4 linked regions of the Homo sapiens genome follow. The protein of the gene in region 3 purifies or fractionates together with the protein of the main gene of each other region. This does not show direct contact. Each region holds a gene or a part of one and is shown on either strand. Other genes may lie near its edges.

Region 1 (6,992 bases), on a different chromosome or scaffold from region 3:
GACCCGGCTTCGTGATGTCAGCGGCGAGGTGGCAGGAACACCGAGGGCAGGGCTCCAGGCCAGGGCTCCACTGGAGCCCTTCAGCCTTCCCTCCCTGCCCCCGTGCTTTCTATGGGGCTGCTACTGTGCTGGCCCTGGAGAGTCTTTTTGGCTGCTAGTTTTGGGGTGCTCTGCCCCCTTTCTGTCTTCCTTACTGTGGTTGAGGCCTCCCGAGGGGGCTGGCTGTGGTGTCCAGCAGCTCTCCAGAGGTGGTCAGGAGCTCCCTAAAGTGCATGGAATTGGGGCTTGGGGTGTGGGAGGGACCAAGGGGTAGGCTGCTAGCAGCTGAAGGTGTCGTAGGTTTTTACTAAAGAACCTTCCACTGTCTAGAGACTTGAGAGAGGGAAAGAGAGAGAGAGGCCTAGACGAACACAATCACATGTTTTCTTTGCTGTTCCTCCCGGGATGGGCCTGTTTTGGGGTTTGGGACTCTGAACCCGAGCGGGGTTCCTTCGCTTGACTTTGATCCTGGTCCTTAAATGCCTTTCCCCACTCCCCTCCCGTGGGTTCAGGGGCCAAGCGGCCCCTCCTCAGAGCACGGGCAGCACCGTCTCCTGGACCCCTGTGTGCCAGCCTCTGCAGACGCAGCTGGTGGGAGGGAGCATGGATTTGGAGGTGGAGAAGTCACTCCTGGTCCTCGGAGGGGGTGGGCTGTGTGCCTAGTTCAGTGTGACTCGGGGATTGGTGAGGGCGGACAGGTTTCTGAGGCCTCCCTAGCCTTCTTTGTAAATTCACACGAGATAGTCCAGGGCTTTCCAGCGCCCAGCTTGGATGATAATCCTCGTCTCCCCCACTCTAAGGCCTCCTTGAGATTTCTTTGGGGTCTACCACGTCCTCTGCCTGTCTCCAGGTGGTACAGGAGATGTGGTTCCTCTCCCTCTCCTGGCTCCCTAGAACCCCCCACTTCCCCTCCCTGTAGCTTTAGCTGACCCCGTGGTGGTGGGTGTGGGGTCTGTGCGCGTGCTCAGGTAAGCTTGGGGGCTCCAGGTAAGCGGTCCCGTGTCCCCCCCCCGGGAAGCCCGCCTCCTCGCCAGGCCCCCAGGAGTTGCCGAGCCCCCCCCATCCCGCTCGGTTTGGACACCCGCAAGGCCGGCATCGGTAAATGGCACCTTTTTCTCTTCCTCTGGTTGTTATTTGGGGGGGAGCGGGCTGGGGCGGGGCAGGGTATTACGGTTGGTTGAGGACAGCCCCCTAGGCCAGGGCTGGGTGGGGGAACGGGGACTTTTTGGCCTTCATGACAGCCCCACGTTGATCACAGGCCAGGGCCTCAGGCTTGCCTTCTGCTACGCGCTGCCCGAGAGCAGCAGTGAGCCTCTCCCCCGTCTCCCCTCTACGACTCCCCTTTCCTGGCAGGCTCAGGCTGGGGTGCGCTCCCAGCACGTGTTGAGCCGGGGGTGTGGAGGGCGAGATGGGGCAGGGCTGGGGGGAGGCAGAGTCAGTCGTCTCAGGTAAGGCAGGGATTTTCAGTAGCACCGCACGGCTCCCCATGCTTCCTCCACTGCCCCTCTCCCCTGCTGCAGGGGCCCCGCCAGGCCCCCTGGGAGTGTATAACCCGCCTCTCTGCTCCCTGCCATTTCCTGAAGATTTCTCCCACCCCCTTCTGGTTCATTTTCTGTTCTGATGTCTGTTCCCCCCACACTCACCCCCCTCCAAAAAAAACAAAAACAGAAAAAACCGGTGTGGTCTGGGGTGCGGAGCGTCCCAGCTGGGCCTCCTGCCCCGGCTTGGTGTCTCAGGGTGCATGCTTGGGGTTGTGGAGGAGCCCCCTCCCCCACAGCAGAGTCCAGCGTGGAGTTAACCTTCAGTTTCTTTGCAGCGATTTTGGCCGCCCTGGCGGGAGGGGGCTGTTCCATCATGTGGGAGAGGAAGGGCCGGGGAGCCTAGGGGGTGGCGGGTGAGGGTGGACGTCTCCCCCGACCAGGAGTGGTTGGGGCGCTGAGAGGAAGCAGACGCTGAGATGGAGCAGGCCCTTCACCGGTTTGGGAGAGGGTTGGTCTGGCTGTCAGTTGCCTGGCTGTCTGTTGGGCGTGTGCGTGTGCGTGATGATGGGGACACGGGGCGGGGATTCTGTAGAGCTGGGCCTGTCCTGACTAGAGGACCCTCTGGGGACTCCTCTCCCCTCCCCCTCCCCACATCTGTTACAGCCGCTTACAAACACGCAGATGGCAAGAAGATTGATGGCAGGAGGGTCCTTGTGGACGTGGAGAGGGGCCGAACCGTGAAGGGCTGGAGGCCCCGGCGGCTAGGTGAGCACATCCTGCCTTCGACGGGCTCTCGGGGGCCCTGGGCCTGGTGGCCTTGTTCTCCCTTCTCTGCTGCTTTCTGCTTCTCTGTCTCCTGCCGGCCCACCTCTCCCATCGCGTCCTCATCTCCGGCTTCTCTCTCTTGTGGCCATCACATTTCTGACAGCTGCCTGCCTCCTCGTTCTGGGTTACTGTGAGGAGCAGGGGCACCAGCCTGGAGAGGCCTGAGCCCACATGCTGGCGTCCGCCCTTGCTAGCTGGGGGTCCCCTTTTCCTGCCTCATTGTACTCCTCTTAGTGGAAATAACCCCGAGTTCACTGAGCTCAGTGTACTGGGCGCCCAGCTTGGCAGTGACGCATGCTGGGGTTGTAAATGTCACTCGCTCATCTGCTTCTGCTGCTTGCTGTTGCTCTTGTTCACTCTTTTACTGATTCAGCAAGTACCTATTGGATCACCAGCTGTGTGCCGGGCTTCTAGTTGAGCAACACAGAGGCAGCCTCTGCCCTCTGAGCCTCCTGCATTCGGTCTCCTCATTGTCATTTGCTGTCTCAGGCAAGGTCAGTTTGGCTGCAAGTATCAGAAATAAACTTGAGCTTCCTGAAACATAAAGGGCCCTGTTGATGTAGAATCATGGGCATCCTTTGGAGTTCGGAGGTATGTGATGTCCGTGGACCTGAGAACCTGGTAGCTGACGCTGTTAAGAGCTGGGGCAACCAGGCCAGGCGTGGTGGCTCGCCTGTAATCCCAGCACTTTGGGAGGCCGAGGCGGGTGGATCATGAGGTCAGGAGTTCGAGACCAGCCTGGCCAAGATGTTGAAACCGCATCTCTACTAAAAATACAAAAATTAACTGGGCGTGGTGGCGGGTGCCTGTAATCCCATCTACTCGGGAGGCTGAGGCAGAGAATTGCTTAAACCTGGGAGGCAGAGGTTGCAGTGAGCCAAGATAGAGTCACTGCATTCCATCCAGCCTGGGTGCCAGAGCAAGACTCTGTCTCAAAAAAAAAAACAAAAAACAAAAAAACTGGGGCGACCCACCTGTGATGTGTGACAGCCCACAGCTTGCTTCTGCCTCGTTTGCCTCCATGCAGCTAGGTCGGTCCCATGCCTCTTTGCACTGGCCCAGCGCAGCAGGCCACAGGCCCCAGCTTTACACTCAGTCCTGGATGAGTCTCTTGTTTCGGGGTGGGCACATTTGATTGACTCAGTGTTGGGCCTGGGGTCCTGTTGCTCAGGCATGCTTATTGAGGACTGAATCCTGCAAAGCTGAGTGACAGTTGTCAGAGAAGATGATGGTCCCTGGGCAGACACCCAGGCAGTAGTAGCCACTTGGGGCTCCTGTCCTGCCTCCCAGCCCTGTGTCCTGGCTCTGGACTCGCCTGTGCTAGGGAGACCACGCTCTCAGCTGCTGAGCCTCGGAGCTTACCAGGCATGTTCTTACCTTACTCTGGTCTCTCTGGGGTGGAGTGGGTTCTTATAGCTCTGCTGTTTCCTGTTGGGGCGGGAAAATGCTAGAATCTCAGTCTTTCCAGAATCTCAGAATCTTCTAGTTCAATTGCCATTCAAACTTTTTGTTGGTGTTAGCCAATAACATCTTGACTCGGTGCACCCGCAGAAATACTGTAACCTAAAGTTTGAGGAAACAGTTTTTTCTATGTAGTAAGTATATAGTTGTATTCTGCTGTTTTGTTTCTTAAGATGTTGGTTGCAACCCATCAGATTGATGATGGGACTCATTTCTGGGTCATGACCTGAATATAGGAAAGGCTAGTCTAGCTGCCCTGTGCCTGTGACATGGCAGGTGCCTGGTCCGCTGCCTGCTTCTATAAGAATGTCTCCCTGCAGCCTCTTTTCTATACAGAACTCAGCCCTGCCTCACGGAAGCTTTTCCAGGCAGTGCGAGATAGAGGAGCGCTTGAGAAGGCAGGTTTTGCAGCAGACGGCAGTGACAGCCCAGTTCTGCACCTTCTTTGCTGAGTCACTGTGGGCCAGTGACTTGATCTGAGATTGTTTCCCCATCAGAACCATGAGGTTATCATCTGTGCCTTGGGGCTGTTCATCTATCTATTCACTTGACACACACACATCCACCTTTCTATACCAGCTGCAGCGCCACCTGCTGGTACCGTGAGCAAGAGCTGGGCATGCCCACGGTTCCGGTGCCCTGCAGTCTGGTGGGAGAGGCAGGTAGGGGTCGACTCAGGTAGCAAACCTGAAACTCCAGGGGAAGGAAGCGTTTCTGCAACTGTGAGTACATAGGACTGTGAGGAGAGACTTCCCGAGAAAGGATGTTCGGGCTAGCGTTAAGGGTGAGCGTGAGTTCACCAGAGAAGGAAGGGGAGACCAGTCCAGGGCAAGGAGAATGCACAGACACTGGCAGGAAGGTGAGCGTGGGGACACTGGGAAAGGCCTGGGACACGCAGCCAAGAGCCGCGGCTCAGACGCTAGCAGGGCCCGCTCTTGCTGCCTCTACCACCAGTTGACGAGGAGTTTGGACCTTAGGCTGGGGGACGCCAGCAAAGGCTTCTAAGCAGATCACATTTTTGGGTGGAAAGATCATTGGCTTCGGGTTTCTGTGAGGGCGAGGATGATTGGAAGGGAGGGTTTTGAGGAGGCTGTGAAGTGCGCTATGGTTAAGATGATGCGCTTTGGGGCCAGACATGGGTTCCAGTAACGGCTGTTGCCTAGCGAACGCTTTGTGTGAGTTAATTAGAGAAGACGTGGCTGTCTTGTGATGGGAGTGCGCGGGATGAACTGCACGGGGGGACCCGGCCCTGTGAACACTAAGCCAGGGGCTGCCTTCCTGCCCTTTGCTCTTGGAGTCGGCTCATTTCTGCTCCTCCGGGCCCTGTCCCTGCCCAGATTCACCCTCTGTCCGTCTGCCCTGCCCCAGGAGGAGGCCTCGGTGGTACCAGAAGAGGAGGGGCTGATGTGAACATCCGGCATTCAGGCCGCGATGACACCTCCCGCTACGATGAGAGGTAAGATTGGGCGACCGGTGTCCTGGGGTGGGGGGCGGTCACGGGGGGAGCCCAGCCACACAGGTCTGCCCACCTCATCCAGGCCCGGCCCCTCCCCGCTTCCGCACAGGGACCGGGACCGGGACCGTGAGCGGGAGCGCAGAGAGCGGAGCCGGGAGCGAGACAAGGAGCGAGAACGGCGACGCTCCCGCTCCCGGGACCGGCGGAGGCGCTCACGGAGTCGCGACAAGGAGGAGCGGAGGCGCTCCAGGGAGCGGAGCAAGGACAAGGACCGGGACCGGAAGCGGCGAAGCAGCCGGAGTCGGGAGCGGGCCCGGCGGGAGCGGGAGCGCAAGGAGGAGCTGCGTGGCGGCGGTGGCGACATGGCGGAGCCCTCCGAGGCGGGTGACGCGCCCCCTGATGATGGGCCTCCAGGGGAGCTCGGGCCTGACGGCCCTGACGGTCCAGAGGAAAAGGGCCGGGATCGTGACCGGGAGCGACGGCGGAGCCACCGGAGCGAGCGCGAGCGGCGCCGGGACCGGGATCGTGACCGTGACCGTGACCGCGAGCACAAACGGGGGGAGCGGGGCAGTGAGCGGGGCAGGGATGAGGCCCGAGGTGGGGGCGGTGGCCAGGACAACGGGCTGGAGGGTCTGGGCAACGACAGCCGAGACATGTACATGGAGTCTGAGGGCGGCGACGGCTACCTGGCTCCGGAGAATGGGTATTTGATGGAGGCTGCGCCGGAGTGAAGAGGTCGTCCTCTCCATCTGCTGTGTTTGGACGCGTTCCTGCCCAGCCCCTTGCTGTCATCCCCTCCCCCAACCTTGGCCACTTGAGTTTGTCCTCCAAGGGTAGGTGTCTCATTTGTTCTGGCCCCTTGGATTTAAAAATAAAATTAATTTCCTGTTGATAGTGGGCACCTCGGTTTCTTCCTCACTGCTCTGTTTTCCCCAGAAGGTTGTTCCTGACTTGATAGCCCTGCTTGGTTTGGTTTCCAGGGTGTACTTAAAACTTGAGCGTTAGGACATGAGGCTGGCTCTGCCCAGTAGCCAGAGCTGTTGAAAGTGGGGTGAGGCGGCCTCTCGGGCTCCTTGTCTCCCTTGTGTTTTTCACCCTTTTTTCTTTTTCATCTCTGCCACACATTCCTCAGGGCTGACCATACCCCTGTCTTGGTGGGGGGCTGGGAATTAGGAGGGGGCTTGATTACTCAGGGGAAGCCGCAGTTTTGAATATGCAAGGGAAGCTACCATCTGCAAGGGAGAGCGGCACACAGGGTGAGGAAAGGCAGAATACACTGGGCACGGGTGAGACGGGGCAGAGCAGGAAGGGTGGACCCACATCATAATAAGTAGTGACAGAGGAGCAACGAGCAGAAACACAGAAGAGGTTCCACCAGCAATTGAGATTTCAAGCAGATTCCTGGACAAAAGATTAAAGACATTGGTGGTGAGAACACTTCAGTCTGGTGAGTGCAGGGAAGGAAGCCTGTCAGCCTTGCAGAACCCTAGAGGGCCAAGGCTGCAGCTCCAGGAGAGCAAGGGTGGGAGGCCAGAGGGAGAGCGGGGTACAGAACAGTTGGCCTCCCTGTTGGCACTCAGGATGCCTGGGAGCTGGGCCGGGGGTGCCTAGGCAAACCTGCTTGTGTTCAGACCTGCTTGTGTCTTGTAGAAGCGTCTCAGCCTGAAGGCAAACTTGGCCTGATAACTCAGAGGGTCTGTGACTGACACGCAGGATTTCAGTCTGCTTTT
Region 2 (7,338 bases), on a different chromosome or scaffold from region 3:
TACCCATATGAGGACTTTTGGCCTAAGAGGGAAAATTAGGCCTCCCAAAAAGGAAAATTGCTTTTTCCCCTTACCTGGTGGTTCTGTTAAATGAATCTGCATAACAGTAATCAGGCTGGCATCCAGATAATCTGTCTCAGGTTCCTTTGTGTACAGTATTTCCACTGGATATGTTCGACCTGGGATGGTGAAAATGGGAGCTTCATAGAAGTATTGAGAAAACTTCACTGCATCCAAGGTGGCTGAGGTGACAATCAGCTTCATGTCCTGCCGTTTCTGAACTGTCTGAAGAGAAATATTATGTGGCTTACTGAAAAGGACTACCCAAAGACACAGGTACTCAAATCCAACTGCCAGAATTCAGCTTCCAACAGGTAGAGGGGTCATTAAAGAGCATCTAGTTACCTTTTTCAACAATCCAAAGAGCACATCAGTGTGAATTGTCCTCTCATGTGCCTCGTCCAACATGATGATCGCGTACTGAGTGAGGTCAGGGTCAATCAAGCACTCTCTAAGCAACATCCCATCTGTCATGTACTTGATGACTGTTTCAGGGCTAGTGCAGTCCTCAAATCGAATGGTGTAGCCCACCTAAAGCAGAAGAGAAGGGGAAAACCTAGGATACAAATGTCTCCTTTTCCCAATCACCAGGCAAGATTTCAGCCCAGTCACTCTCACTCATAATCTTAAGAATCTGATCAAGATGTACAGTAATTTCCTCATAGTAAGGTATGTCTTAGACTATACTCTGAACAGACTGATTATGACAATGGGAACCCTCTCTCCCTCAGGAGAAACCTGAAAAAAGGCAGTATTATTAATATTTCCATTTGATAGATTAAGAGACCTGGGCCTTTGCTTCTGGTATTTTTCGAGCGACTCCACTATCTACTTACCTCTTGGCCTAAGCAACAACCAAACTCCTCTGACACTCTTTTGGCCACCGACATAGCTGCCACTCTTCTGGGCTGGGTACACCCAATCTTGCCCCTGGAAGTGTAGCCTGCCTCCGCCAGGTACTGGGTGATCTGTGTTGTCTTTCCAGATCCTGTCTCACCAATGACAATCAGGATCTGATTGTCATGGACGGCCTGAAAGCAACAGAATATAAATATGGTCATTAAAATCTGCCAGAATATAAATATGGTCATTAAACAGAATATAAATATGGTCATTAAAATCTACATTACTCTGGAATAAAATAATTACTATATTCTAACACCAAAGAAAAGAGGAATATACACATATAGTTAAAGAAGTCAACAATGAATTTAAAAGATACATAAAAAATGTTCCTTCCCACTGTAACTCCCAAATTTCTATATCTTTCCCCAAAAGTTATTTCTTATTTCTACGTTGTTTGTAACAGCCAAGGATTACAATCAACGATGTTTCTATGGATATAGGACTAGTTAAATAAACCAGAGCCTATCCAAATAATACAGCCCATAAAAAAAGGCTTTTTTTTTTTTTTTGAGATGAAGTCTCACTCTGTCGCCCATGCTGGAGTGCAGTGGCATGATCTCAGCTCATTGCAACCTCCACCTTCCGGATTCAAGTGATTCTCCTGCCTCAGCCTCCCAAGTAGCTGGGACTGCAAGTGCCCGCCAGCACGCCCGGCTAATTTTTGTACTTTTAGTAGAGACAGGGTTTCACCATGTTGGCCAGGCTGGTCTCGAACTCCTGACCTCAGGTGATCCGCCCGCCTTGGCCTCCCAAAGTATTGGGATTACAGGTGTGAGCCACTGTGCCTGGCCTGGCAATTTTTTTTGTTTGTTTGTTTAAGAAGGCCAGGCACAGTGGCTCATGCCTGTAATCCTAGCACTTTGGGAGGCCAAGGAGGGAGGATTGCTTGAGTCCAGGAGTTCAAGACCAGCCTGGACAATATAGTGAGACCGCATCTCTACAAAAAATACAAAAAACTAGCTGAGCATGATGGTGTATGCCTTGTAGTCCCATCTACTTGGGAGTCTGAGGTGGGAAGATCACTTGAGCCCAGGAGGTAGAGGTTGCAGTGAGCTGAGATCAAGCCACTGTACTCCAGCCTGCACAAAGCGAGACTCTGTCACACACACATACACACACACACACACAAATCTCTGAGATATATCATTAAGTGGAAAAAGATGTAGAACAGTGTATATAATATCACTGCCACCTGTAAACACACACAGTACTCATATAAAATGTGTGTGCGTGTGTGTGCATATATTTGTACTTGCTTGTATACATATAAGATATTGTTGAAAGGATTCACTAGAAACTAGTAAACCTGATTACCTCAAGGAAGACTCGGTGGTCTTAAAATCAGAACTCCAGAATATAGAGTACCGAAGCACTCTATGAGTTGCCCATATGAGTTTATTGACTGAGTATCCTCATTTTTAATTACTGAACAGAGCTGTTGGTCCATGCAACACAATACTCTGCCCACTTGGAAACTGTTCTAGGGGCCCCAGGAAAAAGAAGATATACAGACACATACATAAGTATGTGTGTCTGTACACGCACACACAAACATTTGTGATATGGGGTCTCACTTGGTCGCCCAGGCTGGAGTGCAGTGGTGTGATTGCAGTTCACTGTAGCCGCGACCTCTCAGGCTCAAGCAATCCTCTTATCTCAGCCTCCCGAGTAGCTGGGATTACAGGCATGGACCACCACACCCAGGTAATTTTTTTTTTTTTAGACAGAGTCTCTCTCTGTAGCCAGGCTGGAGTGCAGCGGCGTGATCTTGACTCACTGCAACCTCCGACTCCCTGATTCAAGCGATTCTCCTGCCTCAGACTCCAGAGTAGCTGGGATTATAGGCATGCGCCACCACGCCCAGCTAATTTTTTGTATTTTTAGTAGAGACAAGGTTTCACCGTGTTGGCCAGGATGGTCTCGAACTCCTGAACTTGTGATCCGCCCACCTTTGCCTCCCAAAGTGCCGGATTACAGGTGTGGGCCACCACGCCCCACCAAATTTTTTATTTTTTGTAGAGACAAGATTCCCTATGTTGCCTCAGGCTGGTTTCAAACTCCTAGGCTCAAGTGATCCTCCTGCCTTGGCCTCTGATGTGCTGGGATTATAGGCATCCACTACCGCGCCCAGCCCCATTTAAAAAAAAAGTATTTAGAAAGTTTTATCCTTCTTTCTTAACTCTTTTGGATGAGCCACTTCAAGTAGGCACATACTTGTCCCGTTAGTTTCAGTTTAAAAATATCACCCCTCTTTTAGACAATAACCCTACTCCCCACCAATACATCATAAAAGTCTTCTCACCTGGACCAATTGCTCCTTCAGTTTGTAGATGGGCAGGCTCTCCCTCTGCTCAAGGATTGACATCTGGGTCTTTTTTCCGTAAGAGGCTTTGTTGCCCCCAAAGGCATGCTTCTTCCACTCAGGAATATCATTGGGCATCATCCCAATACCCCTCATGTTGGCAGCAATCTGTCTGCCTTCCGCTGGAAAGGAAAACAGGCAACTTAGTATTGTCCTCAAGCTACCTCAAGATGTACCAGGAAAAAAATAAAATGGCATGCGGGCACTGCACATGCAGCATCTCAATTCAGCGACCCGTGATCAAAAGTACTCAAAGAAACAAATTAATGTGAAGAAAAGAATATAGAAGGGGCAGCAGGGAATGGGAAAGAGACTGTAACAAGTGGTGCTACACACCTGTGATGTCAGAAAAAAGGTTAGTTGAGAGAAGTGAAGACCTGACTGCTTGACACTGGAATTATTTTTTTTTAGGTAGGGTCTTGCTCTGTCATCCAAGTGGGAGTGCAGTGGTGCAATCCTGACTCACTGCAGCCCCGACCTTCTGGGCTCAAGCGAGAAGAGGTCACTCTATGTTGCCAGGCTGGTCTCGAACTCCTGGGCTAAAGCAATCCACCCATCTCACCCTCCCAAAGTAATGGAATTACAGGTATGGCCACCATGCGCAGCACTCTCCCCTTTTTAAATAACTGCTATATCGAGATGTAATTCACAAACCATGTTACACTTTTTTTATTTTATTTTATTTTTTTGAGACAGGGTCTTGCTCTGTTTCCCAGGCTGGAGTGCAGTGACGCAATCACGGCTCACTGCAGCCTCAAATTCCTGGGTTCAAGGAATCCTCTCTCCTTGGCCTCCCAAAGTGCTGGGATTACAGGTATGAGCCACCAAGCCAGGTCTCCGTGTTACTCTTTTTAAGTGTTTAACTCAGTGTTTTACTGTATATTCATTAAGTTGTGCAACTATCCCCACTATTTAGAGTATTTTCATCATATCAGAAAGAAACCCTGTACCCATTAGCAGTTACTCCCCATTCCTCCCTTTTCCTTTCCCTTGGCAACCATTAGTCTACTTTCTATGTCTACGGGTTCTATTCTGGATACTTCATACAATATGTGGTCTGTTGTGCCTGGTTTCTCTCAGATTAATTTTTTTCTTTTTCTGAGACAGGGTCTGGCTCAGACGCCCAGCAGGCTGGAGTGCAGTGGCGAGATCTCAGCTCAGCAACCTCCACCTCCTGGGCTCAAGCAATCCTCCCACGTTAGCCTCCTGAGTAGCTGGGAATACAGGTGCACGTGATTACACACGGCTAAACTTTTTTTTTTTTTTTTTAGATGGAGTTTCGCAATTGTTGTCCAGGCTGGAGTGCAATGGCGTGATCTCGGCTCACTGCAACCTCCGCCTCCCAGGTTCAAGTGATTCTCTTGCCTCAGCCTCCCTAGCAGCTGGGATTACAGGTGCGTGCCACCACATCTGTTAATTTTTCTGTTTTTAGCACAGATGGGGTTTCACTATGTTGGCTAGGCTGGTCTCAAACTCCTGACCTCAGGTGATCCACCCGCCTCAGCCTCCCAAACTGCTGGGATTACAGGCATGAGCCACCATGCCTGGACTAATTTTTGTATTTTTTTAGAGACAGGGTTTCACCACATTGCCCAGCTTGGTTTCAAATTCCCCAACTCAAGTGATCTGTCTGCCTCAGCCTCCCAAAGTGCTGGGATTACAGGTGTGAGCCACCTTGCCCAGACCTAGCTTATATTTTCAAGATTCACCTTGGAATTGTGGCTTGAGGAGCAAAAAAAAATGAGCAGAATTTTAGTGGCTCTCTAGCATATGCAAACATTTTACAAATTTGATGCCAAAAGCTGGCTACGAAAAAATACTTATGCCTACTAACCAAATAAGTGAGCTTAGGCAGAGGCCAAAGGAGGGTCATGGAGAACATTTCACTAAAGGGTAAAAGGGAATGAATGGGTTTATTCTGAGGAAATGGAAGATGATATTGTTAAACAATGAACGAATATGTCCAACCTTCTACTGTAAATCTAATATTTTGGTTTTTATTTTTGTCGTTTTTAAAAATTTAATTTTAAAATAGAGACAAGGGCTAGGCACGGTGGCTCACCAGTAATCCCAGCACTTTGGGAGGCCAAGGTGGGCAAGATCATTTGAGGTCAGAAGTTCGAGACCAGCCTGACCAACATGGTGAAACGCTGTCTCTACCAAAAATGCAAAATAATTACTCGTGCGTGGTGGCGGTCACCTGTAGTCCCAGCTACTTGAGGCTGAGGCAGGAGAATCGCTTGAACCCAGGAGGCAGAGGTTGCAGTGAGCCAAGACTGCACCACTGCACTCCAGCTGGGGCAACATAGTGAGACTCCATCTCAAAAACTAAACTAAACTAAACTAAAATAACAAAACAAAACAAAATAAAATAAAATACAGATAAGGTCTTACTATGTTGCCCAGACTGGTCTTGAACTCCTGGCCTCAAGCAATTCTCCTGCCTCGGCCTCCCAAAGTGTTGGGATTACAGGCGTGAGCCATCATGCCGAACCTAATCTAATATTTGAATCTCTATTACATGCAGCCAAACTGATATCTAAATTAACACAATTCCCAAACTTCTGTCTCCAGCCCAGACCTCTCTTCTGAGCTCTTATACTCAATTCTACACTGGATACCTCAACCTAAGATGTCCTCTAGTTGCCTCGGACACAAGTCCAAAACGGAATTTGACCATCTTTCCCCACAAACCCATTTCTCCTCCAGTGTTCCCATCATTCATCCTAGTGCTCATACCAGAAACCTGGAAGTCATCTTTGACCATTCCTGTTGCCCCACATTCAACAAATTACTTTTCTCAAGTACATCCCTCCTCTTTGCTACCTCCATGTTCAAGCCACCATTCTCTCTCTTCATAAAAGCTTTCTAAATCATCACATGTGCCCCATCCAACTCATTCTGCAGGGCACCCTCAATCATCCTTTGGAAATGCAACTCTGGTCATGCCATGTGCCAGCTGCAAACTTTCAACATCTGGCTGGGCACGGTGGCTCACACTTGTAATCCCGGCACTTTGGGAGGCTGAGATGGGGGGGGGATCACCTGAGGTCGCGAGTTCGAGACCAGCCTGACCAACATGGAGGAACCTCGTCTCTACTAAAAATACAAAAAATTAGCTAGGCGTGGTGGTGCATGCCTGTAATCCCAGCTACCTGGGAGTCTGAGGCAGGAGAATCACTTGAACCAGGGAGGTGGAGGTTGCAGTGAGTCAAGATCATGGTGTTGCACTCCAGCCTAGGCAACAAGAGCAAAACTCTGTCTCAGAAACAAAAACAACAACAACAAAAGAACTTTTCAACATCTCCCAGTGCTATTAGAATTGAGCCCAGCTTCCTAATGCCACCTACAAAGCCCTGGCCTGATGTTCTTATCTCATCCCCTACCACTGCCCACTGCTCTCTCTATTCCATCCACACAAGCCTTCTTTCAGTTCCTTCTTTCCCACCCCACAAACCCAACACGGGCTACTCCTCAGGCTGGAACATACTCCCCAACCTCCATCCCATCTCCACTTGACAGACTGAGTCCAATTTATCCTTTGGGTCTCGATTTCCCCAGGGAAGTGACCCACCACAGTCAATTACACTGCCTGTACTTCTTCACATGGCACTGATCATAATTTAATTATTTGGTGATTATTTAATTAATATCCATATCCCCGACTAAGTTGTAGCGCATAAAAGCAGGGATCATATCTGTTTAATTCAAATCGTATCCCCAGTTGCCAAACACAAATTAAATTAATAAGTATTTGTTATGACTATATCTAGTAGCTAATATTTACTGCACAAAGAATTATATGAAAAAGGAAGCTTCAAAGCTGTATTACCTTTAGAATAAAAATTTTTTTTTTGAGACGGAGTCTCACTCTGTAGCCAGGCTGGAGTGCAGTGGCGCGATCTTGGCTCACTGCAACCTCCGCCTCCAGGGTTCAAGCGATTCCCCTGCCTCAGTCTCTCGAGTAGCTGGGACTACAGGCGCGCACCACCACACCTGGCTATTTTTTG
Region 3 (7,338 bases):
TAAAATGTTGCAGAGCGAATATATAACTGTATGGATGAACAGAAGCCTATAAAAATTTAAAACTAAATTTCCTTCTTTCAAGAATTACAAACATCCACAATAGGTGAGCTGTGAATACAGAAGACAGGAAACCATTATCAGCTGACACATAATTCTGTTTTTTCACCTTTGCCTCCAATTCTTCATAGAGTGCATAGTTGATCCAAAGATAAATGTAGCGCTTCCAGTGCCTCTTCTCCTGAATGGGTGGGACATTGGCAATGGCCCTTTCATAGACTTCTCTCACGGCTTCAGCTTCTGCGTCACTTTCTACCAAGCGCAAGTAATCAAACCATGCATCATAATTGTGTGGATTCGCCTAGAAAGACAACCAGTTTAATAAATAAAAAACAAAACCAAGAGCTGCACTTGCCAGGTTAAGCAAGCTGAAAAAAGGCATCAGGCTGACTTTCTATATTTTAGCACCTTTTCTTCTAAATGTTACATGTTCTTTCATTTTAAAAACACCATCCCTGAGACTGCATAAATAGAAAAGAAACAGGAATACAGAGGATAGATTACTGGCCAGGTGTCCCACAGCAAGGACTCCTTCATCTATAGCCATCACTCTCACGACAGTCAATAATTAGATGCCTATTCTTGCCAATGCATTTGCTTAAATATGTGACTATGTATCATTATGTCTGTAACAACAGAATCGTATCATGCTCACAATTGTTAAACTTGCCTTTCCAATTAATAGCAATTCATCTTTAACATATCTTGCTAACCTACCACCACATTTAATAACAGACTTAGTCCTTTGCTTGGAGGTATCTTAATTAACTTGACTAAGGAAGAGTATTTTTAAATACACAACAGAATACTGAAGGAAAATGACACTCTCTTTGAATTGAAATCAAAATAGTACATTACAGAAAAAGAGATGCCGATGGAACCCTGTCTAGCATACATCTTTTGTTCAGGCAGTTAAGCTCAAAGGTGATGTGCAAAACAGGTTTTTGGACCAATCTCTGACTCTTCCACCTTCTTCCAACAATGAGCTCGAATGGATTCCACATTTCTTTTGCTCCAGTTCTACATACAGTCAACAATCAACAAAACGACTTACAACATGTAAGTGGCAGAGCAAATCCAAGTGTTGTTTGCTTGCCTTTTCTATCAGCCTTGTTTATTCCTACTTGTCTGAAATAGCTGCCAATTGGATCACGGGCACATCATCACGAGAGTAATCACTAGTAGTGCTACTTGCTATTATTCATTTTAGTGTTGCTAGTATTGATGAGCACATCTTGGGTTATCTGCAGAGTTGACCATCCACACCAGTGCTCACCTTCACTTCTTCTTCGTACTGGAATCTCCGTTTGCTCACAATGATATCTTCAATACCCCGCCTATCACCAAACTTCTTCTCAAAGATGGTATAATTTTTAAAGAGTTCTTGGGCATCTTGTTTTGAAATTCTGTCCAGGGCATACTTGTAAATCACTCGTACCCTTTCAAACTAAATGCAGACAGGATGATTACCTTCTATAACACAATATTCTCATGCCAGTCACAACTAGGAGAGTAAATATAACAAAATATTACTTATAAGTTAGATTTTGAGGCCTCATAATATCCAGAGTAAGATGCTTTTCTCCCTCTTGTTGAAGGTTATCTCTGTCAGGATGGACCGGTACTCTGCTTTGAGCTCCATATTTAATACTGTCTACCTAACACTGCCAACTGGATGTCTACTGCACATCTCAAACAGGTCCAAAACTGAGCTTCTGTTTCCTCCCCACTCAAACTGGGACTCTCCCCATCTTCCCAATTTTAGTAGGCAAGGCCTAACCTACAGTCACTTGCTCAAGCCAAAACCTTCAGGTGATCCTCAATTCCTCTTTTTTCCTCATACTCCATATTCACTCTTGCAACATGCCCTACCATTTCAATCTCTTCCACACAGCCATTTGCTTCTCCCCAGCCCCCAGCCATCAAACTCCACTGTTCACCTGGCCCACTTCAAAAGTCTCCCCACTGGTCTCCCCTGGTTCCACTTTTGCCATCTACCCTCATACATTCTCCATGAATTAGCCAGAGGCTCTCCTTAAAATATAAATCATATCCAATCACTGTCCCGCTTAAAACCTTTCAATGCTTCCCACTGGCCCGAACAGAATCTGAACTCCCTAGCATGGTCCGTGCAAGACCTTATATAGGTTGAGTATCTCTTGTCTGAAGCATTTGGTATCAGAAGTGTTTTGGATTTGGGATGTTTCCCCAGTTTGGGAATATTTGCATTATACTTACTGGTTCAGCATCCCTAATCCAAAAACCCGAAGTCTGAAATGTTCCAATGAACATTTCCTTCGAGTGTCATGTCAGCACTCAACAAGTTTCACATTTTGAGTTTTGGATTTTCAGACTGGGAATGCTCAAACCTGTATTTGGATGGATCTCAATTCTGTATTATTTGAACTCCCTTTTTTTTTAAGAAATGGGGTCCTGCTCTGTCACCCAGGCTAGAGTGCAATGGCACGAACATAGCTCATTGTAGTCTCAAACTCCTAGGCTCAAGTGATACTCCTGCCTCAGCTTCCCAAGTAGCTGGGACTGTAGGTGTGCACCACTATGCCCACTCAATTTTTTTTTTTAGAGACAGGGTCTCACTATGTTGCCCAGGCTGGTCTCAAACTCCTGGCCTCAAGTGATCCTTCTGCCTCATCTTCTCAATATTTGAGCTATTTTCATAGGTACAAGGGAAAAAAAGAACTCTCTTATTTGTAGGGCAATCTCTGTTTCCATTCTAAATGTTTTCTGTTCTAGGGCTTTAAGCTTTTTGTTTCCCATATTTATTATCGGTTAAGTCCTTTACTTAGGATGCCAAAAGACTAGTTCTCAGTTTACGGGCATTCAGACTAAAAGGCTTAATTTTCAAACAAAGCACAATAAAATTAAGACAGTTATAATACAATCTATAATCAGCTCCCATCTGTAGCTTAGTCACATATATATGCTGTTCTCTGTGAGAAGCTGTGTTTTTGTATTTTGAAAACATCTTTCCAGGGATATGTCAGTAAGAAAAAATGGAAATGAACTCACCATGCACAAAATGTAATCTTTGCTAAGCTGTTTTACAGTATAATGAAGTTAGGTATACTTACCTCTTTCTGATTTTCTTCAAACTTGGCAAAGGCAACATAAAGGTGCTCATCCATATGTTCATCTCCAAAGAATTCCACAGCTCTCTCATACACTTTCCGTGCATGGGCAAAATAAGCATGTTTTTCTTCAAAGCGGGCATACTTGATCCAGTTCTTAACATCAGGGTGCACGAGGACAAGTGCAAGGGAATTAAGGAAATCCCAGGCAAAACAGCATGGCTTAAAAAAATAGTAAGTAAGTAAACACCAAAACCATACCAAAGCCTGGAAACTCCAAAAATTCAAACTACAACTCTAGGGGAACAAAACACATACAAAAGTGTAGAATTAAACAGTGGCTTCTGTGAGAGCAGGGCCACGCCTGTTCATCTCTATTTTCCTCCAGTGCTTAGTTAAGATTTTAGTGGTGGGTATAAACTCGAGTTGGAAGCAAAGAAAAATCTCAACCCAGGTTACCAACCATGTGATCTTGGATAAGTCACTGAACTTAGACGTCTAAGTCTCAGCTGTTTCATTTGTAAACAGGGAAAAATAATGCCAGCCTCACTGGATTACTGCCAGCTTTAAATGAGAAAATGTATGTAAAGCCCTTAGCACAGTTTCTAGCCAAAAGAACATGGCACCGTAAGCGGTCAATAATGGTCTGGTCATTAAATAGCACCAATTATATTAAAATATGAATACTTGAACTAATAATTAAGAAAAAAACATGCTATAAAAAGAAAACTGTTAACTAGAGTCAAAGCAGAAAGTTTTGAATTGTCATTTTAATCTATCTTCCTTGAATAAATCATTAATTTCCAAAGTAGTAATATATTCCAATATGGCAAAGAAGAGCATCAGTTCTGAAGCTGCTCTACTAGGTTCACATTCTATTTCCATCAGCACCTGTGAGAACCCAGTCAAGCTACTTAATCTCTCATGCCTCAGCTCCCTCATCTGTAGGACAGAGAAGTTCCTACACTGCAAGGATGTTATGAGGATTAAACAACAATATCTGTAAAGTACTTAGAATACTGCCTGGCACGTAGCAAGTGCTATAAAAGCTTTCGTCAAACTAATAATATTAAAATTAGTAGACATAATTAAGATCTTAACATTGTCACCTCAACAGAGAAGAGTAAAAAAATAAAAAGATCTTAATACTGCATAATAAAGTTGACTCTCATTATTTCTGGTAGTTATGTTCTATTTAGTCAATGCGAACACTTAATTATTGAGTACTGAACCACTGCTCCTAGGAGAAACGTGTATATATACAATCTCACATTCATCATCATCTTAAATCCTAAAAAGAACTCATCCTGGCAGATTCTATCTTCATTATTTTGTAAGAAAAGTGGTTCAGAAATGTTAAGTGACTGGACTGAGGCTGCCCCACTGACAGGGATTCAAACTCCCCGACTGGCCCCAGAGCCACAGCTCCTTGCACTACATGGCACTGGCCCTTCCTGTCTCCAAGCTCTAGGCATGGTTATATGAGGTTAAGACCAGAAGGCAAGCCTCACCTTGTTGGACTTCATGCTCTGTGCATGTCCACAAATGACTGTGAAAGTGCCACAATTACTGATTTTGGGGGTTACAAATAAATTTTAGCAAATACGTGATTTTGCAAACATGGAATCTGCAAATAGTGAGGAATGACTGTACTTCAGTTTCTAAAAGTGCTTTCATGTGTATCATTTAATCTTCGCAACAGCCCAACAAAGGTGTTTTTATTCTTGTTTTTAAGAAGAGGACACCAACTCTCAAAGGAGTTAAATGACTCTCTGGAGCCACACAGCTAGTAAACAGTAAACCTTGGATGAACTCCAGTAAGGTAGTAATGACCAACACAAACCTTAGAAAAACAGGACTGGCAATGGCAGCCAGGACCTTAGTACAGTTAGTCCTCCAGCCATGGGTTCCATATCTGTGGATTCAACCAACCTGAGATAAAGTATTCGTGAGAAAAAAGTGCTTCTGTATTGAACATGTCGTTTTTTTGCTTATTATTCCTTAAAATATACAGAATAACAATTATTTATATAACATTTACATTGCATTAGGTATAAGTAATCTAGAGATTATTTGAATTATATGGGAGGCTATGCATAGGTTACATGCAAATACTACATCATTTTATATGAGGGACTTAAGCATCACCGATTTTGGTATCCCCTTGAGTTCCTGGAAACAATCCCCCAGGAATATCATTTTCCACAAGGAAACATTAGCTTTTAGCATTACAATAAAATAAACCCAAACTCTCACTAGAAAAGACTAGTTACCCAGAATACAAATTTTCATTCTGACCAATCTCTTTCCCTACAAAACATAGGGAAGCTGATAAACTGGCATTCTTGACTTTGAGCCTGACATTAATGACTGTGTGTCCTGATCATGAGACATCTCTACAGGAGCAGCAGCAGCATCCAGGACAATCATGGCACCATACAGATCTCGTCCAAAGGATATATCGCTCATAAATGGTGCGGGCCCGATCCACCTCTTTGTATCTCAGCTCAAAGTTGATGTAGGAGTGCCAGGCTTGCTCCTCAGGCTGCCACTCCATCCAGCGCTCAAACACCTGCCGGGCACCGGCAACGTTTCCCAACATTTCCTCCATGTACGTGTACTTGTACCTGTAACAAAATCACCCGAAAATATCTGCTGTGGTTTAGTTCTTCCATTGTTGAATGGGAAGAAGATTGAAGATTTTACCTTTCTTAAAGGTTAAATCAAACATGTTTTGTCATTTGTATGTAAATCTGAAAAAGGATGAACCATTGGAAAAAAAGATTTTTTTTTCTTAAAAGTTGCCTAGTTCAACAAGAAGCTTATGAATAAAAGATTGCAATCAAAATTTTAGTTTTGATTACATAGCTATAGAACATTACGATTATGACTTAATAGACTATGGGACATAACAGCATTTATGTCTGAAGAAAAAGTAGGATATCAAATTAAACTATCATCATGTAAATAAAATAAATACAGAAGATGTGGAACTTTGCTAGTCTATAAAAGGCTGTTTTGTTAGATCAGAAACTTACCAGAACTGATTAACTCGAGGCAGCGTTGTTATGGCCCGGTCCCAGATATTTCGAGCATGGTTGACTTGGCGATTCTTCATTTCCATTTCTGCGTATTTCAGCCAGAGTGTAATATTTCGGTAGTCTACATCTAAAGCACGCTCGTATATGGATCGAGCCCTTAAGAAGCAAGATTTGCAGGGCATCAAAAATAGAGCATTCAACACATGTAGCAGTTATTTCAAACTATCTGGAATGCACTGATGTTTTATTAGGTGTCTACCATGAGCCAAGTTCTGGGCATAAAAAAATGAAAAGATATAATGCTCTCAAGTACCTTACAAAGTCTTATAAAAAGACATGCATGCAATTATAATGCAATGTGATTTATGTTATAGTCAAGATCTGCACGGGAAACAGAGAGGAAGAAATGAAAATGTTTGGTGGAAAAGGCTAAGTAGTAGGTAATTGTAGAAATGAGAACTTGAGGAACGTTCCGATTTACCAGGAAACTAAGTTTGGTGAGGAGGGGGTGCTCATTCCAGGCAAGGAGAACAGTCAAGCCTCACGATAAGGAGACATGATATATTCAGGGAGTGGCACATACACAGGCACAGTGGGGGAAGGAGGTATGCGGGGAGAATGCAGAAAGCTAGACCACAGGAAGGGCCAGATTGCAATTTTTATTTTTTTTGGCCATTGGTTTTATTTTTTTTGGCCATTGTTTAGCTGAAATTTGTAAAAATCTCAATATATACAAAGCAAATGAAATTGTGCTTCTTTAGCTACAACTGACAAGATCTATCTCTAAAGCCTCTTCTGCCACCCTCCCCAGGACTATTCTACCCCAGTACTCCTGAGGCCCTCAAGGGAACCCTAGGGTTCCATGGAACCAAAGTTGAAAATTTCTACCCGAGGCACAATCTTTTACCTGTGCTTTAACTTTTTCTTCTTTTCTTTTTGGTATCTGTTAATCTATGAATCATTATATACAAAACTACACTCTCAGTAATTTTACCTTTGAATCTCCTTTAGGCTTTCTTCCCATTGTGCGTATTTTATCCAGTTACTAATCACAGTCCTGTTTTTTCTTATATTATCTTCAAAAGTCTGGAAGAAGGCAAAAAGGGTCAAGTCAAAAGACAAATGACTAAAAATGACAGCACCCTTGGTCT
Region 4 (7,378 bases), on a different chromosome or scaffold from region 3:
GTAAGAACTAATTTTATAAGTGATCAATTCACAGTGAATATTTTCATGTGAGAATTTTTACCTCCCCATGCAACCTTGTAACTTTGGAAGTCCAGAACACTGATATATGAATAAGGAGCCTCTGTACCACCAAAAAGCAACTTTAGTTAGAATTAAGATTCCCAGCCATACCATGTTGTCGATAGCTGCTGCAGCATCCTGCCAAGGAAAGACAAAGGTACAAGTTTAGGCTTGCAGCCAAATGCTTCTTATGGTGTCTAAACACATGCTCAGTAGCAAAAATCCAGAAAAATGCCACCTCTGTATTTCTTGCCTAGGTTTTGTGTGTTTCTAACAAAGAGCACTTCCTGGCTGATTTTAGAGCTGGTGGTGCAACAATTTGCCATCTAGTTGAAGGCACAAGAAATAATCACTACTTCCAGGCAAGAATGCTCAATGAACAGGGGTGCATGAGCTAGCTCCTCTGCAGGGCAAGAATGGGAGGGCCTGGCAGGTCTGACATGTTATTCACAGTCCAGTCTGATTATGTGAGAGACGCTTTCCTTAGAACAGCACTTACTTCTGATCTCTCTGGAAGCATCAGCCTAAGGCCCAAAAACCTAACCAAATGGTGAAAAGCTTCCTTTGTAATCAGTAACAACATCACAAACCAAGGACTAGACACTAGTAACACAGACTCTCACCTCTGCCAACTCAAATTCAACAAAAGCAAATCCTCGGTGCTTTTCTACAAAATGGAAAAACAAAAACAAGTAATTACTATGTGGGGTAGTGGGAAGAAACAGGATGGTCACAAAGTGAAGTCAGTTACATGTCGTATCCAAACACCAGAAGTTCTATCCAATCACTATTTAGGAAGAAGGAATCTCATTCTTGATTCTTCTTATACAATATTTTAAGCAATAATAAACTTTGTTTTTTTAATGGACATAGCTGAATAGTAAACTGTATTTTTAATTGATAAGTATTCAATTATTCTACGAAAGCCAAACTTAAAACCTTAACCATTGCATGCAAAGCAATTAGAAAAATAAAGTCATTTGACCTATCAATTATCTATCTAAATATATATTTTGCGCATCAACTGTGCATAAAGCATGAATCCTAAAACCTGATAAAGATGCTCAGTCTTTATCTTCAGGAAAATGCTGAACTAACTAGAAAGACCAAGCACAATAATGTTTATCATAGAACTCAGAGACTAGAAGGCCCTTAGAAAGCCAACATAACCTTATCATTTTGCAAATAAAGATTTCCCAGGCCCAGAGAGTTTAAAGACTTTGCTAACAATCATATGCAAGGTTGATGATAAAACTAGGCCTAAAACTATAATCTTAAAAATGACAACAAAGGTAAACAGAAAACTGAACTGTGGTTGTGATACCAATCGATGGGAAACCCACCCAGGGGTGCAGAGGCCAAGAACCCCCGCCCTCACCCACCCCCATTATGGGGCTAGGCTTTCCCGCTGCCTCATTTAATAGCACAGCTGCAAGAAGGTGCAGGTGGGATGGGGTACCCATCAGGTAGATTAAAACAACATTCAAATCTCAATGTAGTTCAAACCTATCTCCCTACTGGTCTATTGAAAAATCTGTCTTATCTCAACCCAACAGCTGAAGACTCTGGAAAGTATTCAGAGTTCACAACCACATGGCCTCAGAACATTCCTTCTCCATCGAGATCACTGTCACCAGACACCTTCCTGAACTTACCTGTAGTGTATACTAACCATATTTAGAATGCATATTTAGAATTGTGATGTGACTTTAATTTTTTAAGGTATTTTCCTAGTAAGAGGATTCTGAACGTGAGAGACACTAACTCACCTGTTTCATAATCCAGAGGAATCTGAATATCTGTGATGTCTCCAAAAGGAATGAACGCAGCATGAAGAACTTTGTCGTCCACTTCCTCTGCCAGTCCACCTGCAAATAAGCCAAGGGCCTTCTGAGCCACTGATCTCCATACTCTTGCAGAAGTCCTTGCAGCCCAGTTAGCATGCTAGCCAGGGGACAGGACCCTTCCATTCAGTTCTTTGGGTAAACAAACATCCCCCTCTCATCTCTGCCCACCCATACTTATGAAAAATATTCCTCTCTTCGCCCTTCTTTCAGACTCTCATCTAGTCCTGGGATTACTGCAATAGCTTCACAACTGACCTCCCTGCCTCCATTCCATCAACTCCACAAAGCCAACTAGAATGATCTTAGGAAAATGCAAATTTGAACCCGTAACTTTTCGCTTACACTCCTTCAAAGGCTTCCCACTGTCCTCAGGATAAAGTGCAAACTCCTTAGCAGTACCCACCTCTCCAGCTTTTTTGCTTTGCTTCCTAATTTCCTGGGTCTCCCGAATAATGACCCACTTGCCCCCAAGTGTCAGGCTATTTCACACCTTTGCGACTCCCTTGCAGTGAACGGCCTTGCCTCTGCTTCGGTTACGTAGCTAACTCCTGCTCATCAGCTCTGGCATCGCCGCATCCAGAATTTGCCCTCGCTTCTCCAGATGGATGGGTCATTTGTCCCGCAGCCAGGCCCATATTATCATGATCCATCCTCACTACAGCGCTTATCAAAAGTGTGCTACTGAGGTAATTCCACTTTTTTTCTGGCTAGTCTGGGAACTCCTTCCTTTATGGCAGGGGCTGGGGCTGAGCCGTCGCTGCACTGAATGTTTGTAAAACAAATGAACGAGAGGATCCGAAGGGCCATAATACTCCTTTACCGCTCCTCGGGGCCCGCTGGAGCTCAGCGGGCTAGGAAGTCAGAATAATCATTCCGTCTCGGGTTCACGCACCTGAGGTGTGTGGCAAGGCTGTTCACTGCAAGGGAGTCGCAAAAGCAGAGGCCCAAAGGTGTGAAATAACCTGAACCTTGGGGGCAAGTGGGTCATTTTTCGGGAGACCCAGCGAATCGGGAAGCAAAGCAAAGAAGCTGGAGAAGTGCGTACTGCTAAGAAGTCTGCACTTTTTCCTGAGGACAGTGGGAAACCTTGGAAGGAGTTTAAGCACAGCCAGAGCTATCGCCAGCACTACCGCCAGAGACCCGGCCTTGACAGCAGCTCGCCGTCCTCCTGGTTCAGAGATGCGTCCCACCCCACGCCCCGACCCTTGGGGGTCGCGTTCACTCAGACTCCGCCTAGCAACCCCTCCTGCTCACCCACGTACAAGACGCGCTTGGTGGTGGCCATCTTGCTCGCGCGCTTTTCCGCCGGAAGCCAGCACTCGACCCGTCCTCTTCCCCACTGTCCCGCCCCGCCCCCAACGCTTAGCTCTTAGACCCCGCCCACCCTCGCGTTGGTCCAACCGGCATCCCGCTACCCGGATGCACTGGGCGCCTTGTGAGGTGCGCAGTGGTAAACCAAGGGACGTGGTCCTCGCGCTTCCCAGTGCGCACCGTGTTGGGGGAGGGAAACCTTGGCCGAATCAACCCGATTATTATGGGCAAACGATAAACTCTGGTGCTTGGCCATCCTGCGCGTCTGTTTTTGGACAACCTGGGAGCTAAGAATGAATTTTACCTTTTGAAATAGTTGGAAAAAATAAAAAAACTATATTTTCTTGGCCGGGCGTGGTGGCTCATGCCTGTAGCCCCAGCACTTTGGGAGGCTGAGGCGGGCGGATCACCTGAGGTCAGGAGTTCGAGAGCAGCCTGGCCAACATGGTGAAACCCCGTCTCTACTAAAAATGCAAAAATTAGCCAGGCGTGGTAGCGGGCGCCTGTAATCGCAGCTACTCAGGAGGCTGAGGCTGGAGAATCGCTTGAACCCAGGTAGCGGAGGTTGCAGTGAGCAGAGATCGCGCCGTTGCACTCCAGCCAGGGTGACGAGAGCGACACACCATCTCACAAAATATATATGTATATTTTCTTAGCACATGAAAATTATGTGAAATTAAAATTTCAGTGTCCGTAAAGAAAGCTTTATGGGGACACAGCCACGCTCATTCCTTTAAGTATGACTGTGGCTGCTTTCCTACTACAAGGGCAGAAGAGCTATAGCCTGCAAAGCCTACAATAATATTTACAATCTGGCTCTTCAGAAAGAACGTTTGTCTACTCGTGTTAGGTTTTGAAAAGAAGGCAAGGGTTAAAGAAAGACACACACACACACACACACACACACAGAAAGAGGGCGGCTCGACAGCAAACGCAGGCTTTATGTCCAGCATAATAACCTACAGAAGTGGGGAACCAGCCTAATGCCAGTGCCCACCACTGCTTACAGACTGGGCAATTTATAGGTATGGGCGGTAGGGGTCTGGGCAGTATGGGTTGCTGCCTAGCAGGATATTGATATAAAGATGTTCTCATGATGAGGCGGTTTGGCCCTTGTTCCAGTGGGATGTCATCATGGTGTCCCTTGGACCTTTGCCCAGGAAGATATGAGAGGGATGTTTCTTTAGTTGGGCCTTTGTCTGCCTTGTGGTCGGGTGGTTAGGCAGGATGTTTCTCACAGCCCAAACCCCTGTGAAATGTTTCACTTTGACCAAGGTCTGCAGAATAGCAGGGAGCTTACAAAATGGTGCAGTTTAGAGTAACATCTTGGACTAAACCCACTAATATATAAATTACAGGTTGACATAGTGGTAGGAAATAATGGGACCATCTATTTTATATGGAGCAGGGGGTTAAGACCTTCCTGAGGTGACATTTAAGCTGAATTCTGAAGGAAAAGGAGCCAGAGAGAGGAGGAGGCAGCTTCCGCACACTCAAGGAACTAAAAGACCAGAGCCTGGGATGGTGGGGTGGAGGGCATATCAGGTGGGAAAGGTAGGCAGAGGGCCACATCATGAGGGTGCTGTAAGCCTTCTGGAAGATTTGGGAGCTTTGAGAAGCTGCTGAAGTTACAACAGGAGAGTTACATGCTCACATCATTTTAGACAGTGCTCTGACACTAGGCCCAGGATGGGTTGATTGGAACCCAGGAGACCAGGAAGTTAATGTAGTAGACTAAGGAAGAGTTGATAGTGGCTCTGTTCCTCCAATCCACTTGTCCAGGGTGATTTTTTTTTTCTTTTTTTCTTTGAGACAGGGTCTTGCTCTCTTACCCAGGCTGGAAGGCAGTGACATGATCATGGTTCACTGCAGCCTCAACCTCCCAGCCTCAAATGATCCTCCCACCTTAGCCTCCCGAGTAGCAGCTGGGAGTACAGGTGCACGTCACCATGCCCAGCTAATTTTTTTTTTTTTTTTTTTTTTTTAGAGACAGGGTCTTGCCATGTTGCCCAGGCTGGTCTCAAACTCCTGGACTCAAGCGATCCTCCTGCCTCGGCCTCCCAAAGTGCTGGGATTACAAGTGTGAGCCACTACACCCGGCCTAGGGTTATCTTTCTTCAAAATAAACCTAAATTCTCTAGAACTCCCTACCTAAATCACTGATGCTGCTAACAAGGTCCTTGACAAGGGGTCCATGCCTACCTCAAGTCAACCCTGACCTCCACATCAGTTCCTCACCTACTTACCATGGGCTCTTTTTCCTTGCCTCTGCTTTTGCTCATTGAGTTCTTTCTTTTCTCCATCTGGAGGCACCCACCAGTCCTTGTCAGAGGTCCTAGTTAAGCTTCACTCACCCAAATCCCCTATAGACAGAGTCCATAGTCCCCAAGTTCAGAAGTCAATTGGAATACACCCTATAACTATAGTCAGGTATGTCTCTCTCTCCCAGTAGATGAAGGTATTTGACACCACGGCCTGTACCCATTGTATTCCCAGAGCTAAGCAGTGGCTGCGCACACAGCTGACCTTACCAACCTCATGCCAAACCAGGGAGTTGATACTTATAGGAATGAGGCTGTGAGATCTGATTAGGAGAGCTCTTTGTGTACCCGTCACTATTCCAAAACAAAAGGTCACTCTCAGGAAGAATCTGACCAGGCGTCCTTTATGTGGTGTGGTATAATAAAAAATAGATACTTGGTCTTTGTCCTAGTTCCTGGCACAGAGCTTCTAAAATCATTGGAATATCCTGAGTGCTGTGTCTTTTGTTATTCATAATGAGCCCATTTTGACCCTACCTAAGTTTGTGCTAAGCAGATGACTCAAGGTAGAACCCCTAGCTCGCTTCAGGATGGGGGTTGGTCATCAGAGAAACCAACCATGTGATTAGAGGGTTGGGACTTCCAGCTCCCGCCTCCAACCTCTGAGGAGAGGAGGGGGTTGGAAATTGGGTTCAATCACCAACACCCAGTGGTTTAATCAGCCATGCCTAGGTAATGAAACCTCATATAAACACTCTAAATGCGGTTTGGGGAGTTTCCAGGTTGGTGAATACATTGATGTGCTTGGAACACAGCATGCCTAGAGAGGGCATGGAAGCTCACCAGCCCCTCTCCATTCCCACCTTGCCCTGTGCATCTCTTCCTACAATCTTTACAGCCAAGTTTGAATGCATTGTTTGGATAAGGAGGAACAAATGTCTCCTGTGGGGAAGATAGTTCATAAAAAACCAAACGGAATCTCAGTAACCTTGGTGTCTGCGTCAGCACCAGCTTCTGGCCCTCTCTTCTTTCGTAGGCGCGTGGGTCACTCACTCAGCACCTGCTTCTGTTCTTGGGAAAGTGCTGCCGCCAGCATGGAGGCAGTCAGGGGTTCCTGGCCTGCACATGGACAGCAGGCTGGGGTGCCTGGGAACCAGGAGAAGCAGTGGGTTAGCACCCAAGGAAAGGACAGCACTCGATGGTGGTCAAAGTTAGGACACTCCAACCACTCGACACCTGAATGCTACCATTCAGAATCCAGGCGAAGGGGAGAAGTAATGGTTTTTGACCAAATTCAGCGCATTTTGAGGGGAGTGGTGGTGATATAAAACTGTATAGATTCTCCATCGCGCTCAGTGCCTCACGCCTGTAATTCCAGCACTTTGGAAGACGGAGGCGGGTGAATTTCTTGAGCTCAGGAGTGTGAGACCAGCCTGGCCAATATGGCAAAACCCTGCCTCTACTAAAAACACAAAAATTAGCCAGGTGTGGTGGTGTCTGTCTGTAGCTTCAGCTACTCAGGAGGCTGAGGCAGGAGAATCACTTTAACTCAGGAGGCGGAGGTTGCAGTGAGCCGAAATTGTACCACCGCACTCCAGTCTGGGTGGCAGAGTGAAATTCTGACTCAAAAAACTAACTATGAAGCTGAGTGTGGTGGCTCACACCTATAATCCAAGCAATTTGGGAGGCCGAGGTGGGCGGATTGCCTGGGGTCAGGAGTTCAAGACCAGCCTGGCCAACATGGTGAACCTCTGTCTCTACTAAAAACACGAAAATTAGCTGGACGTGGTGGTGTGCACGTGTAGTCCCAGCTACTCGGGAGGCTGGGGCGGGAGAATCACTTGAACTCGGGAGCCAGAGGTTGCAGTAAGCCAAGATGGCACTACTGCACTCCAGCCT

What was found.
Region 1: the proteins of CRNKL1 (region 3) and SNRNP70 fractionate together in Homo sapiens (co-fractionation; 2 studies listed by BioGRID). This does not show direct contact.
Region 2: the proteins of CRNKL1 (region 3) and DHX8 purify together in Homo sapiens (affinity purification with mass spectrometry; 5 studies listed by BioGRID and IntAct, with this or other methods). This does not show direct contact.
Region 4: the proteins of CRNKL1 (region 3) and PPIE purify together in Homo sapiens (affinity purification with mass spectrometry; 5 studies listed by BioGRID and IntAct, with this or other methods). This does not show direct contact.

The regions. Positions count from the first base shown.
Region 1 is NC_000019.10:49,102,451-49,109,442, forward strand, and holds the end of SNRNP70 (U1 small nuclear ribonucleoprotein 70 kDa), read left to right. Parts: intron 1-976; exon of another isoform or gene 977-1,137; intron 1,138-2,183; coding exon 2,184-2,285; intron 2,286-5,174; coding exon 5,175-5,262; intron 5,263-5,344; coding exon 5,345-5,993; 3' UTR 5,994-6,154; downstream 6,155-6,992. UniProt on the Homo sapiens protein: Component of the spliceosomal U1 snRNP, which is essential for recognition of the pre-mRNA 5' splice-site and the subsequent assembly of the spliceosome. SNRNP70 binds to the loop I region of U1-snRNA.
Region 2 is NC_000017.11:43,500,756-43,508,093, reverse strand, and holds part of DHX8 (ATP-dependent RNA helicase DHX8), read right to left. Parts: intron 3,451-7,338; coding exon 3,269-3,450; intron 1,092-3,268; coding exon 897-1,091; intron 592-896; coding exon 406-591; intron 286-405; coding exon 75-285; intron 1-74.
Region 3 is NC_000020.11:20,042,159-20,049,496, forward strand, and holds part of CRNKL1 (crooked neck-like protein 1), read right to left. Parts: intron 7,274-7,338; coding exon 7,182-7,273; intron 6,344-7,181; coding exon 6,185-6,343; intron 5,774-6,184; coding exon 5,607-5,773; intron 5,605-5,606; exon of another isoform or gene 4,990-5,604; intron 3,369-4,989; exon of another isoform or gene 3,329-3,368; coding exon 3,150-3,328; intron 1,505-3,149; coding exon 1,334-1,504; intron 359-1,333; coding exon 167-358; intron 1-166. UniProt on the Homo sapiens protein: Involved in pre-mRNA splicing process. As a component of the minor spliceosome, involved in the splicing of U12-type introns in pre-mRNAs.
Region 4 is NC_000001.11:39,734,715-39,742,092, reverse strand, and holds the start of PPIE (peptidyl-prolyl cis-trans isomerase E), read right to left. Parts: upstream 3,212-7,378; 5' UTR 3,193-3,211; coding exon 3,162-3,192; exon of another isoform or gene 2,800-3,161; intron 1,929-2,799; coding exon 1,830-1,928; intron 728-1,829; coding exon 684-727; intron 199-683; coding exon 172-198; intron 166-171; exon of another isoform or gene 62-165; intron 1-61. UniProt on the Homo sapiens protein: Involved in pre-mRNA splicing as component of the spliceosome. Combines RNA-binding and PPIase activities.